3 linked regions of the Homo sapiens genome follow. Changing the gene in region 2 together with the main gene of any one other region gives a genetic interaction. Each region holds a gene or a part of one and is shown on either strand. Other genes may lie near its edges. The genes, in order: HRG, CSK and EPYC.

Region 1 (3,752 bases), on a different chromosome or scaffold from region 2:
AGAATCCCAGTAATTCTCAACCTTGACTGCACACACTGGATTACCTAGGAGTTTAAAAACTACCAATACCAAAGTCCACTCCCAGAGATTCTGATTAAATTGTCCTGGAGGAGTCCTTGACATCAGGACTTTTTAAAGCTCCTGGGGTGATTCTAACATGAAGCCGAGTCTGAGAGACATGACTGCAGACTCTCACAGACACTCACTGCGGATAGAACAGGGAGGAATGGAGATGCTGCCTAACTGGCTGTTTCTTGGCAGTGAGGACGGAACCTAGGCTGATTCCCTCTGGTCCCTTCTGATGCTGCTGGCTCTGCTGGTCTGAGGGTTGCATATAGGTATACGGGTTTCTTCTGAAGTGTGAAGGTAGGGGGTCAGCTGTATCATAGCCCAGTCCCCCCCTGCTGATCCCTTCTAACAGTGGGATGGGCATCCAACTATTTGACTCTTACTCTCACCACCATCCTCTTCCACGTGAATCAATTCTTTTTGCAGGGAATTGGGGTGGCATGAGGTGTCCCCAACTTCTTTGCAGGCACACTAATAATAAATAGCATCACTTATTCAGCATCTACTCTATGCCAAGAATTATACTGGTTGCTTTCTTTTTTTCTTTCTTTCTTTTTTAGATGGAATCTCACACTGTCGCCCGAGCTGGAGTGCAGTGGCGCGATCTCAGCTCACTGCAATCTCCGCCTCCCGGGTTCAAGTGATTCTCCTGCCTCAGCCTCCCAAGTAGCGGCGATTACAGGCATGTGCCACCATGCCCAGCTAATTTTTTGTATTTTTAGTAGAGACAGGGTTTCACCATGTTGGCCAGGCTGGTCTCAATCTCCTGACCTTGTGATCAGCCTGCCTTGGCCTCCCAAAGTGCTGGGATTACAGGCATGAGCCACCGCACCCAGCCTGATTTCTTATTTAATTATCACACAAGCCTGCCAAGAGGTATCAATCCATATTTCGTAAATGAGGGAACTATCAGAGAAGTTTTGTTGCTTACCCAGCATTACACAGTAAGAAAGTAATAGAGCCAGGTGAGAAATTCAGATTTGACTTCAAAACGACAGCCTCTTCATTGTTCTATTTTACCTGAAGTCATTCCTTTTATAATGGTACCTGTTTAACATGTTCCCCCGCTTAGATAATGCAGCTGCCTTCTACTGAGGAGTTTTAGTGCCATGATCCATCAGTCCACTGACTGATGATGGAGATTTCCAGCTGAGACAGGCAGGCAGATGGAGGAAAATTACCCCTAGCCCCACCCCCTACACCAACATAGGCACTGCTTATATTCAAAGACGTACTTTAGATCTGCTATCTACTAGAAAAATCCAGATTTGTGCAGATCACAGTTCCACCCACTCATCAGCATTTCTCAGCTTTCTGCCCCCAGGACCCACTAATCATTTACAGCTTGTTGATGGTTATTTGAACCCAGGGTCAAGGTGAACACCCTCAGTTACACAACAAAAATGTATCAAGGTTTTGTTTAATCAATTGCGTGTGTTTCAGAAAGTCTGTATAAAATTCTCTGCAGTGGCAGATCATAGCAAGGGATGGTTTAACAAAATGAAGGCACTCATTGCAGCACTGCTTTTGATCACATTGCAGTATTCGTGTGCCGTGAGTCCCACTGACTGCAGTGCTGTTGAGCCGGAGGCTGAGAAAGCTCTAGACCTGATCAATAAAAGGCGACGGGATGGCTACCTTTTCCAATTGCTGCGGATTGCTGATGCCCACTTGGACAGAGTGGTGAGGAATTGCCAATGGCAGAGCTGAGTTGGGAGATTACTCACGGGGGCAAATGTGACTCTACCCCCTAGGCTTACTGCTTTGCACAATGAATGGCTTTGGTCAGAGTTTTTTGTTTGGCTTCTGCGGCTGCTCTAAATTGTTCTTTTTTCCTTCAAACTAATATTTGTTATTAGTGTACCCGCAACTATGATTCGATTTGTGGGTACATATAAGCATTTATGCTGAGCCCAGTTACATGCTAAGGACTGCCAGAGAAACATTAGAATAAGCTATGGGCCTTGGCCTCCAGGAAATAATAATACACTGGCACATACAGGCAAACAGTGTAAGTTACTAGGATAAACTAGAGAGAAGGAAAAGTTTTCTCAACCCTCCTAAGGCTCCTAACTGAGCCTGAAATAAAACTGGTAGACAAGGCCAGGCGCGGTGGCTCACGCCTGTAATCCCAGCACTTTGGGAGGCCAAGGCGGACGGATCATGAGGTCAGGAGTTCAAGACCAGCCTGGCCAACATGGTGAAACCCTGTCTCTACTAAAAATACAAAAACTAGCTGGGCATGGTGGTGCACGCCTGTAATCCCAGCTACTCAGGGGGTTGAGGCAGAAGAATCGCTTGAACTCGGGAGGCAGAGGTTGCAGTGAGTCGAGATCATGCCACTGCACTCCAGCCTGGGCAACAAAGCTAGACTCCATCTCAAAAAAAAAAAAGAAGAAGAAGAAAACATACAAATTTATTTAATCCAAGGTTTACCTGACACTGGAGTCTTCATAAATGAAGACTCAGATATCCAAAGAAACTGGCCACTTGCATACTTAGAATTCACAAAGGCTGTGCAGAATGCAGAAGTGTGATGGGACAAAAGGCTGTAATCTAAGAGTCATAGACTGAAAGAAGGACCCAGCAAGGCCTCTCTGTTTGAGTTCTTCATGGCCTCTCTGTGTGGCATTTCTTGCTCCCAAGTATGGGACAGGATCCCTTTGGAATGCGGATCTGAGGACCTACTATCAAACAGAGTAGGTCAGAGAATGTCTTTATGGCCAGCTCCTACAAAGAAAGACACAGGGGGAAGGTTAGATTCATATTTTAGGATTTATGGATGCTTTCGGGGAGAGGGATTCTACCATCTGTGACTGTCCTGGAGAAGAGAAATTTTAGTTTCTATGGCTTGCCTTGGGGGAGAAAGCAGAGTAGGAGAACAAAGGGCAGAAGGTCAGACAGATCTGGCTTCTGAGGCCCTTCCCATTTTCTTCAGTTCAAAGGACTCAGCACGCCAAAAGTACCATACTTTGAGATACCATGTTCTGAGCCCCAACAATAGCCAAGTGACCAAAGGAGTGGTAAATGTACTGGAGCAATTTAATGAGGGGAGATCTAGTAAGACTGGATGGGAGGAGGCTTCTGCTGTGTAATGATGCATGGGTAGGATTTGAACAGGTCTGGGTAAATGTGTTCCTGGTGAATTCCTGGCACCACCACTTCTAGGTGGGTATGGAATCAGGAAGAAGGGTGTTAGGGAGCCATTGAATATAAGCAGGTGGGTTCCAGAAGTTCCATGTGGGCTCTGGAGCAGGCATCAGGTAGGAGCCAAGCCTGTGGGCTTGTCTTGAGGTGAAACAAGCTTACTGTCTTCGCTTAGATTACACGCCTACCTAAACTGGACTAGAGGAGCCGATAGACATTATAGAGAGACATGAAGCCTGCCTCTAAGCTCCCCAAATAACCTACTCTCCCTCTGATGGAAAAACTGAAATTAGGGAGGCCAGACAAGGAGTACTACAGAGGACAATTTACCCTTCTGAAAGTATCACAGAGGGAGGCACTGTGGGTTGCAGAGAACAGGTGTGCAGGAGTTTAGGATTCAACCAGTAATTCAGTGACCATTAGTCCCATGCCAGGCTCATCAACACATGTTAGGGCATAGGATGCATCAGCACAGAGCTGCCTCTGAGAGCTAGCATAGAGAGCGGGTGGATGGGGAGGGGTCCTGATGTGCCTGG
Region 2 (3,652 bases):
CCCTGGCAACTTTTTCTTCAATGACTTGAGCTGGTGTTTTGCCATTTTCCATACTCTATCATGGGGAGTGTTCAGTATCGGCATCTAGAGATCTCCCCTGGCCCCATCACAGCTAGAGCTATGCTGTCCCCTTTCAGGGACATCTTGTAATTTATCCACCCAGCCCCCAACTGATGGACATAAAGGCTGTCTCCCCATCATCTCCTGCTACTACAGACAGCACTGCAGGGACTGTCCTGCTGTGTTTTTTTAAGGCATGGGTACTCCAGAAGCAGTTGCTCAGCTGCACCCCCAAGGTTGAGTGGAAGTCCCTCGGTAAAGGAGGAGGAGAGAGTGTGAAGGGAATGGCAAGGCGGGGAGGGAGACAGGGCACAGGTGTCCTGGCAACAGCAGATGGGAAACAGGTCTGGCTAAGGTACCAGAAGCCAACAAGTCCCAGAAAGGTCAAGTGACTTTCCCAAGGTCACACAGCAAGTTGATGGCAGAGCTGGGTACAGGACTCAGAGCATCTGACACCCAGGACGATGTTCCTGCACTGTTCCATAGAGTAGCCCGACTCTTAAGTTTAAATAACCCCAGGAAGGACCCCCTCTCTGTGCCTGACCCCCGCTGGGTTGTAGAGGCCTAAGTTTGCAGTAGCTCCTCCCAGCCACTCTGGCTGTCAGCCTCTGACCTGCAGTGGGAGGGTCTCACCTTCTGGAGATGTTTTAAGGAGGGGACCCCGGCCTAGGCACTAGCTGGGAAGCCACTGAGCCATCTTGTCTGCGGCCACTGACGTCAGTGCTTGGGCACAATGCCAGCCTGTTCCCGGGACCCCAGCACAAGGGCTACTGGGAGCCGGGTTTGGGGCAGGAAGTCAGCGTGAAGCACTGGTCCTGCCACATCCCAAGCCCCTTGTCCCCTAGCTCTGTGGGGGTGGGGTGACAGCTGCTATCGCTTTGGGGTTAACTATAGTCCCTTTGGGGTTAACTATAGTCCCATTGGTTATGGGACCTCAGTGTGATGTAGCCAGGCTGGATTCCCCCTTTTGTTTGTTCATTTATTCATTCATTCAGGGGTCTCATGACCCCACCAGGGAGGAGCCGTCCAAGAGAGTTAGCAGCTCCCACTTGCAAGATGTCTGTGGCAAGGCAGGCACTGTTCTGGTGCTGAGAGCTCAACTCCAGTCCTCACAGCAGCCCCCAGAGCCAAGGAGTATCACCAGTCCATTGCACAGATGGGGAAGCTGGGTTCTAGAGTCACAGCCAGCAGAGTAAAGGTGATGAGTTTAGCCCTCTTCCCTGTTTCCAGACCCTCTGAGGCCTTCAGAGCCCAGCTCCTTGAGGCAGCCCACCCCGACCGCTCCTAGGCTTACCCTTCCCTGAGCACCGCCCCTGTGCCCCTCATAGCTGCTTCTGCCTCCTCCCTCCTCCCTCCTCTCCCTTGCCCCTAGGCTAGTGTGGTCCCCATGGCAACTCCTGGGGCCTGTCCGGCAGGGAGGCACGGGGCTATGGGGAGGGCTGGCTCAGCAGCTCAGGAGTTTGACACCTGAGGGGGACAGAATGCTCACTCAAGGTGTGGCCCTAGGGACCCCCGCCTTGCCCCTGTGGGCCTCACTTGGGGTTCTCATCTGCAAAATGGGGATAATAATAGCTTCTCTGTCTCAGAGTTGTTAGAGGATGTGATGAGCCATAACGTGCCAAGGACAGGGCCTGGCACAGAATAAGTGCTCAGAAAACAGGGCCTGTTATTATTTTTATTATTATAATCAAGGCAGTGGGGAGGCGGCGGTGGCAGTAGCTGTAGGCCAGGAAGGGAGTGTTTGCAAACTGACAGCTGGAAGGGTGACTAACAGCGCAGCAGCCTCCGCGCCCCCCTGTGGTGGCAGGGAGTTTGGGGAGGAAGGGGGAGGCATGGGGATGTGGAATGCTAGCAGGGCCCCTATTCAGAAGGACCTAAAGGTTGGGGGCCCAGCCAGCCCTAGTGGGACCCTAATTCAAGCTCTGTCACCCCTAACTAGCTATGTGACTTCAGGCAAATTGTTCAACCAGTTGAGCCTCAGTTTCCGCTTCTGTGAAATGGGGGTAAGAGGGTTAGAAGAGCTCACAATCCTCCTTCCCTCCCCGCCACCCCCACCCCCACAGCTTACAGTCCACAGGAGGCAGGGGCAAGGGGTCCTCACCACCCCCACCCTCACAGCTTACAGTCCACAGGAGGCAGGGGCAAGGGGTCCCCGCCACCCCCACCCTCACAGCTTACAGTCCACAGGAGGCAGGGGCAAGGGGTCCCCGCCACCCCCACCCCCACAGCTTACAGTCCACAGGAGGCAGGGGTAAGGGGTCCCCGCCACCCCCACCCCCACAGCTTACAGTCCACAGGAGGCAGGGGCAAGGGGTCCCCGCCACCCCCACCCTCACAGCTTACAGTCCACAGGAGGCAGGGGCAAGGGATGGTTCCTGTACTTAGTGGTGACTGAGTCATGTGGATGGAGGCAGGTTTCAGGCTCATCCTCCTTGGGCCTCAGTGTCCCTGCCTAAACAGCAGGATTGATGGCCTGGCCTCTGGGGATAGAAAGGGCCCTGTATTCTGGGAGGAACGGAAGCTCTTTCATCCAGGGGATGGGGCAGGGGCGCACCAGACATTTCCAAGTTCAGGGTTTCATTCCAGCCCCTCCTCAGCCAGCTTGCAGGAGATACCTGTCCTCCCCTTCAGGGTAAGCAAGACTTAGAAGGGTTGAGTCACTCACCCCAAGTCGCACAGTCAACAGAGCCAGGTATTAAGCCCAGGCCTGACTATAGAGCCAGGTGTGCGGCCTGGAAGTGTTGGTTCTCCCTGGCCGTCTCCTCCCCAGCTCCTTCTGCTCTCCATGATCACATGCCCCCCTGCTGAGGCCCCATCGCCCTTGGAGTCAAACCCTGGTTCCTCACATTGGCAGTGGAAGTCCCCCTGCTGCCTGGCAGAGTTTATGCCAGGCCCACTTGAAACCATCCCCTACAGTGTCCCCTGAGCAGCGGTGCTCAAGGTGGACTCTGGAAGTGTGTGGGGTCCTAGAGCCCCAGATGGGCAGGGTCTGCCTTCCCGCTTCCCTCACCATCGGCTTCCACCTGGGCCAGTTTCTCATACTATGCCAGTCCCCTGCCTGACACCTTTGCTCAGACTGCTGCATCAACCTGGGGTGCCTTCCCTGGCCCGCCCTCTGCCTGTGTAAGCCCTGCAATCTTCAGGGCTCAGCCCCAGAGCTCCCTCCTCCAGGGAGCCTGTCTGAGCTCTGCAGTCCGTGCCTACTTCACACCCCCAGCACTTTGCACTAAAATGTCTTCTCCCGCGCCACTGCACTCCAGCCTGGGCAACAGAGCAAGACTCCGTCGCAATAATAACAATAATAATAAAATAAAATGTCTCCTTCCACTGGGGTAGGTAGCAATATTTGTGACTGTCAGCCTAGCCCCCAGACCTCATCCACTGTATCAAAGAGCCCAGCAAAGAGGCTCATGGAGGAGTTTCTCTTCTAACACACTGTGACCACGAAGATGCCACTGGCCCTTTCTCACCCTCAGTTTCCTCACCCGTAGAAAGGAAACAGTAGTTCCAGCCCCTCTGCTTCCTGAGACAGGTCCAAGGGGGCTCTGGGCTGGGATTACAAAGTATGTGTGTGCAGACGGGTGGGTTGCTG
Region 3 (3,752 bases), on a different chromosome or scaffold from region 2:
TTTTTGTGTATACACGTATCCCTCAGACAGACTCAATCATGTCTAGGGACCTGACACAGAGAAAAGCCAAGTTGATTTCCTCTTTTTTTGTGTCACACATGGTGCTGTATCATTTATCATCTGAGTCTCAGTAGTCCCATCTGTGAATAGTGGTAAGCACTCTGCTTAAGAATGTGTTGAGGTGATTAACAATCATATATGAAATCACCTGACACCCCACGTGGACCTTGCTTCTAAAGAGGACAAGCCTAGAAACTTGGATTCAGGCATCTTTCCAGCACTGCTTCTAAAAGTGGCCTTTATATGGTGGGGTGAGACTTCACAGATGCCAGAAATAAGTTCCTGTCTCCAAGATGGCCTCTCTATTTTTTGAGAGGTCTTGGTAGACTTCATACATTACCCATTATCACTGTTTCTGCTCCAAATAAAATTGTTTTTGAGAAAAACAATGCATACTAAGAACAAATCATTTGGAAACAGGGTTGGATGATGGGGATGACAAATAAGAATGCCCTGAATAGATGGGCAAAGACATTTTGAGGGCAGGGAAGATGGGAGCAGAGGCAGGAAGGGGAGTGAGAGAACCTTAAAGACAAACCTTCTTCTCTCCCATCACTTGGCCCAGGAGTAATACCGCTTTCAAAATTCAATACATCTATTCACTTGCAGACATGAAGGAAAAGATTCCTGAAGCATAAGTGAGAACCAAATTCCTAGATTTATCTAAAGCATACCAGAATACAAGATGCAACTTTCACCTTTCTCTAGGACTTATACAATGTAAAATTGAGGTATGGAAATTTAAAGCATATTTTTTCTCTTCATATTTGTATTAAAGTTCAATTTTACAAACCATGGAAGTTAACAAGAGCTTAAAATAAAGCTCCTATTCTAAGGAAAAAATGTGTAATTTGATTTATTTGTCTATGATAGATACAATAACTTTTTTTAAAAAAAGCCCCTTTTCTCCCCAAAACACGCAGATCATATTTATGCATCACTTCTGGATGTAATTTTTTTAAAGTTATGCAAAAGGTTCATTTTTCCCTGTTTTGCTATCAAAGCATTCCATGCAATCAAAATAATTGGGATATCTTTTTTTACTTACCCAATATTAAACAGGTAAGGTTTCTGCAACATTTACCAAATTTCACTTAACATTAATGAAAAGTGAAGAAAGCAATTCAAGACTTCAAGTTTTGGGAAAATTATTTCTTATTAGAACTAAAATATCCATCTATAGTATCACTGTATACATGAACTTCATTTCTTAATTGGTGAGTTTGTTACAGATGAGGTATGTTAAATCCAACTTTTTCCATTTAAAAATTTTAAGGTGATACTTTGGCAATTATAACTCCATTAACATAATTTCAAGAACTTTGTATACTATGTGATTTGGATCCTACTGCTTAGTTTGGGTGACTATAAAATAATTTGAGGTTTTTTAAAGACTGAGAAGTATTTCTCAATATTAGGTTTTGCAAACAGAAAGTTGAGTGTTATAAATTCCACCTCCCACAGACCAGAATTCACAGCCATTGGTCAGGGGCAAATACCACTAGCTCTGCATCCTCAGTCACTTTGTGCCATTTCATCAGGTCAGAGCCAAAGGTAAGTTTTTATACTTGCTTTCTTCTTGGGTCAGAGTTCTTTCCCTACTATAACAACCTTTAAAAAATAATTTAACTTGCCTTAATGTCATCTGGTGAATTTTGATTCAATGGATTTGGTTTATTTTTGTTATTGACTTTGTATTTATATTATTCTTGGAAAATCCAAAATTTTGAATTAGCTTAGGAATTAATAACATACAGCAAATAGTTAATCTCAGTAGTCATGACAGATGCCAATAAAATTAGAGTAGTTTCCAATATATGCCTTAAGTAAAGTTTCCTGACACAGACCACATTCTTTGCCAGTATAGACAGGCACTATTGATTGATATTAATTGAAATTTTGTGAAAAGGGAGGAAATAGTGAAATTTCCTGAGATTAAAAGTATTGTAATGATTACATGACATTATGCATTTAAAATTTTTTTGAGCTATATATTGAAAGTTTTAAATACACAAATTTTAAAATATTAATAAATGGTATAAAGTGAACACAAAATTAAAGTGTTAATTAAGAAACTACATTAAATGCTAATACAATTACTTGAAGAAAGGAATATAAATTTTTTAACTAAACATAGATAGATGCTGTATATATTTTTAAGATTCACACAGCCTGCCTTATAGTTGATAGCTCTAGGAGTGATGCAAAATGCAAGCAAATTCTGAGATGTAGCTATATGTAATCAAATATAGTATGATGTGAGAAAAAAGGCCAGCAAGTGTATAATTTCTTTGAATAATGGAAGTTGCCAGAAACATATAAGGAAAAATTTTTTTTAAGTTGGTAGTGGCTTCTGTTAATGTTTCCAACTTGATTATGGGAGAATGGTTCCTGGAAGATTTGCAAACCCACTGTTTTATTAAGTAGGACTTTGTTGGTAATTGCCTAGAACAGTTCCAAATCTGCAATCCTGCAAAGACTTCTGCAAAGGCAACTGAAATAGAGGCTTAGTTTATCCTGTGTGAATAAGAAATTTATTTGAAGAAAGCATAGGAGAGCTAAGAAGGAGCTCCTTGTACTGCTTCTTATTCTCAGAGGAATTTCATATCCTTCTGCCTAAACCTGCTTCATAAAGGCTTTCTTTCAAGTAACTGAAGGTCATTTTGTCTGCCAGTGCATTCAAGTTTAAAAGTAATATTTATCATGAATTCCCTTTTATATGTATGCATAGGTAGTAACACCACAGGTACTGTTCTTAAAGTAAACCCAAGAAGTGTGTCCAAATGTAAAAGCCTCTAAAATTAGACATGCTTGATACAGAATTTTACAATACTTTGCCTGCTCAATAAGGGATCACTAGGTAACATTTTGGTAAGACTAACTTAAATGTTTCAAATTAAATGTGAAGATTTTTTTTCTAAACCAAAATGTATTCAAATGAGTACATACAGAACTAAAAAAATAATTAAATTATAGGATCTTGATTGAATCCTCAAAAAGCATAATGTTATAATGGAAAATAAGAATTGTGCTTATTAAGGAATTAAAAAACAAAGATGGCTATAATCCCACAGGCATACAAGGGAATCTTACCAAATAGTGCCTTTTAAACATGTATTCCTGTTGGTTCTGAGTTCAAATCTTAGATAGCTATTAAGAATTAAATAAAATACTGAGGACTAAAGGAAATTTTTTTTCTATTCTATTTCATTAGGAGCATTTTGAACAATATTGCATGAAATACTAACGTACATATTAAACAATGTATGTATTTATATGTCCAGAGGCTACAAAGAAGTAACAGAAAAAACAAACAAAACTTTGTTACTTTGTTCTGAAGAAGGCCTTAGACTTAAATGTACAAGAAACAGTTATGAGTCCTATTTTTAAAATTATTTTTAAAACCCCAATGCCTAAGCCACACTGTGGATCACTGAAATTGGAATTATTTGTGGATATCCTAGTTGCATTACCAGTCAACTCTGCCTCAGTTTCTTCACCTATAAAATGGTATGACAGTTGCAGTCATCATCACCGTCATCATCATTATCCTTATCATCTTCAACTTCATATCCCAGAGTTGATGAAGGATCTTAATGTTTATTAAATGGTAAAATTATTAGATGATGAAAAGCTTTTGTGAATAAGCTCTGTTTTTCTCTATAAAATAAAATAAAATTTTACTGTAATTA

The links.
Region 1: changes in CSK (region 2) and HRG are lethal when combined (synthetic lethality), as found in Homo sapiens cells (one large-scale study listed by BioGRID).
Region 3: changes in CSK (region 2) and EPYC are lethal when combined (synthetic lethality), as found in Homo sapiens cells (one large-scale study listed by BioGRID).

The regions. Positions count from the first base shown.
Region 1 is NC_000003.12:186,664,463-186,668,214, forward strand, and holds the start of HRG (histidine-rich glycoprotein precursor), read left to right. Parts: upstream 1-1,551; 5' UTR 1,552-1,569; coding exon 1,570-1,752; intron 1,753-3,752. UniProt on the Homo sapiens protein: Plasma glycoprotein that binds a number of ligands such as heme, heparin, heparan sulfate, thrombospondin, plasminogen, and divalent metal ions. Binds heparin and heparin/glycosaminoglycans in a zinc-dependent manner.
Region 2 is NC_000015.10:74,791,991-74,795,642, forward strand, and holds part of CSK (tyrosine-protein kinase CSK), read left to right. Parts: intron 1-1,055; exon of another isoform or gene 1,056-1,258; intron 1,259-3,652. UniProt on the Homo sapiens protein: Non-receptor tyrosine-protein kinase that plays an important role in the regulation of cell growth, differentiation, migration and immune response.
Region 3 is NC_000012.12:91,002,809-91,006,560, reverse strand, and holds the start of EPYC (epiphycan precursor), read left to right. Parts: upstream 1-1,588; 5' UTR 1,589-1,614; intron 1,615-3,752. UniProt on the Homo sapiens protein: May have a role in bone formation and also in establishing the ordered structure of cartilage through matrix organization.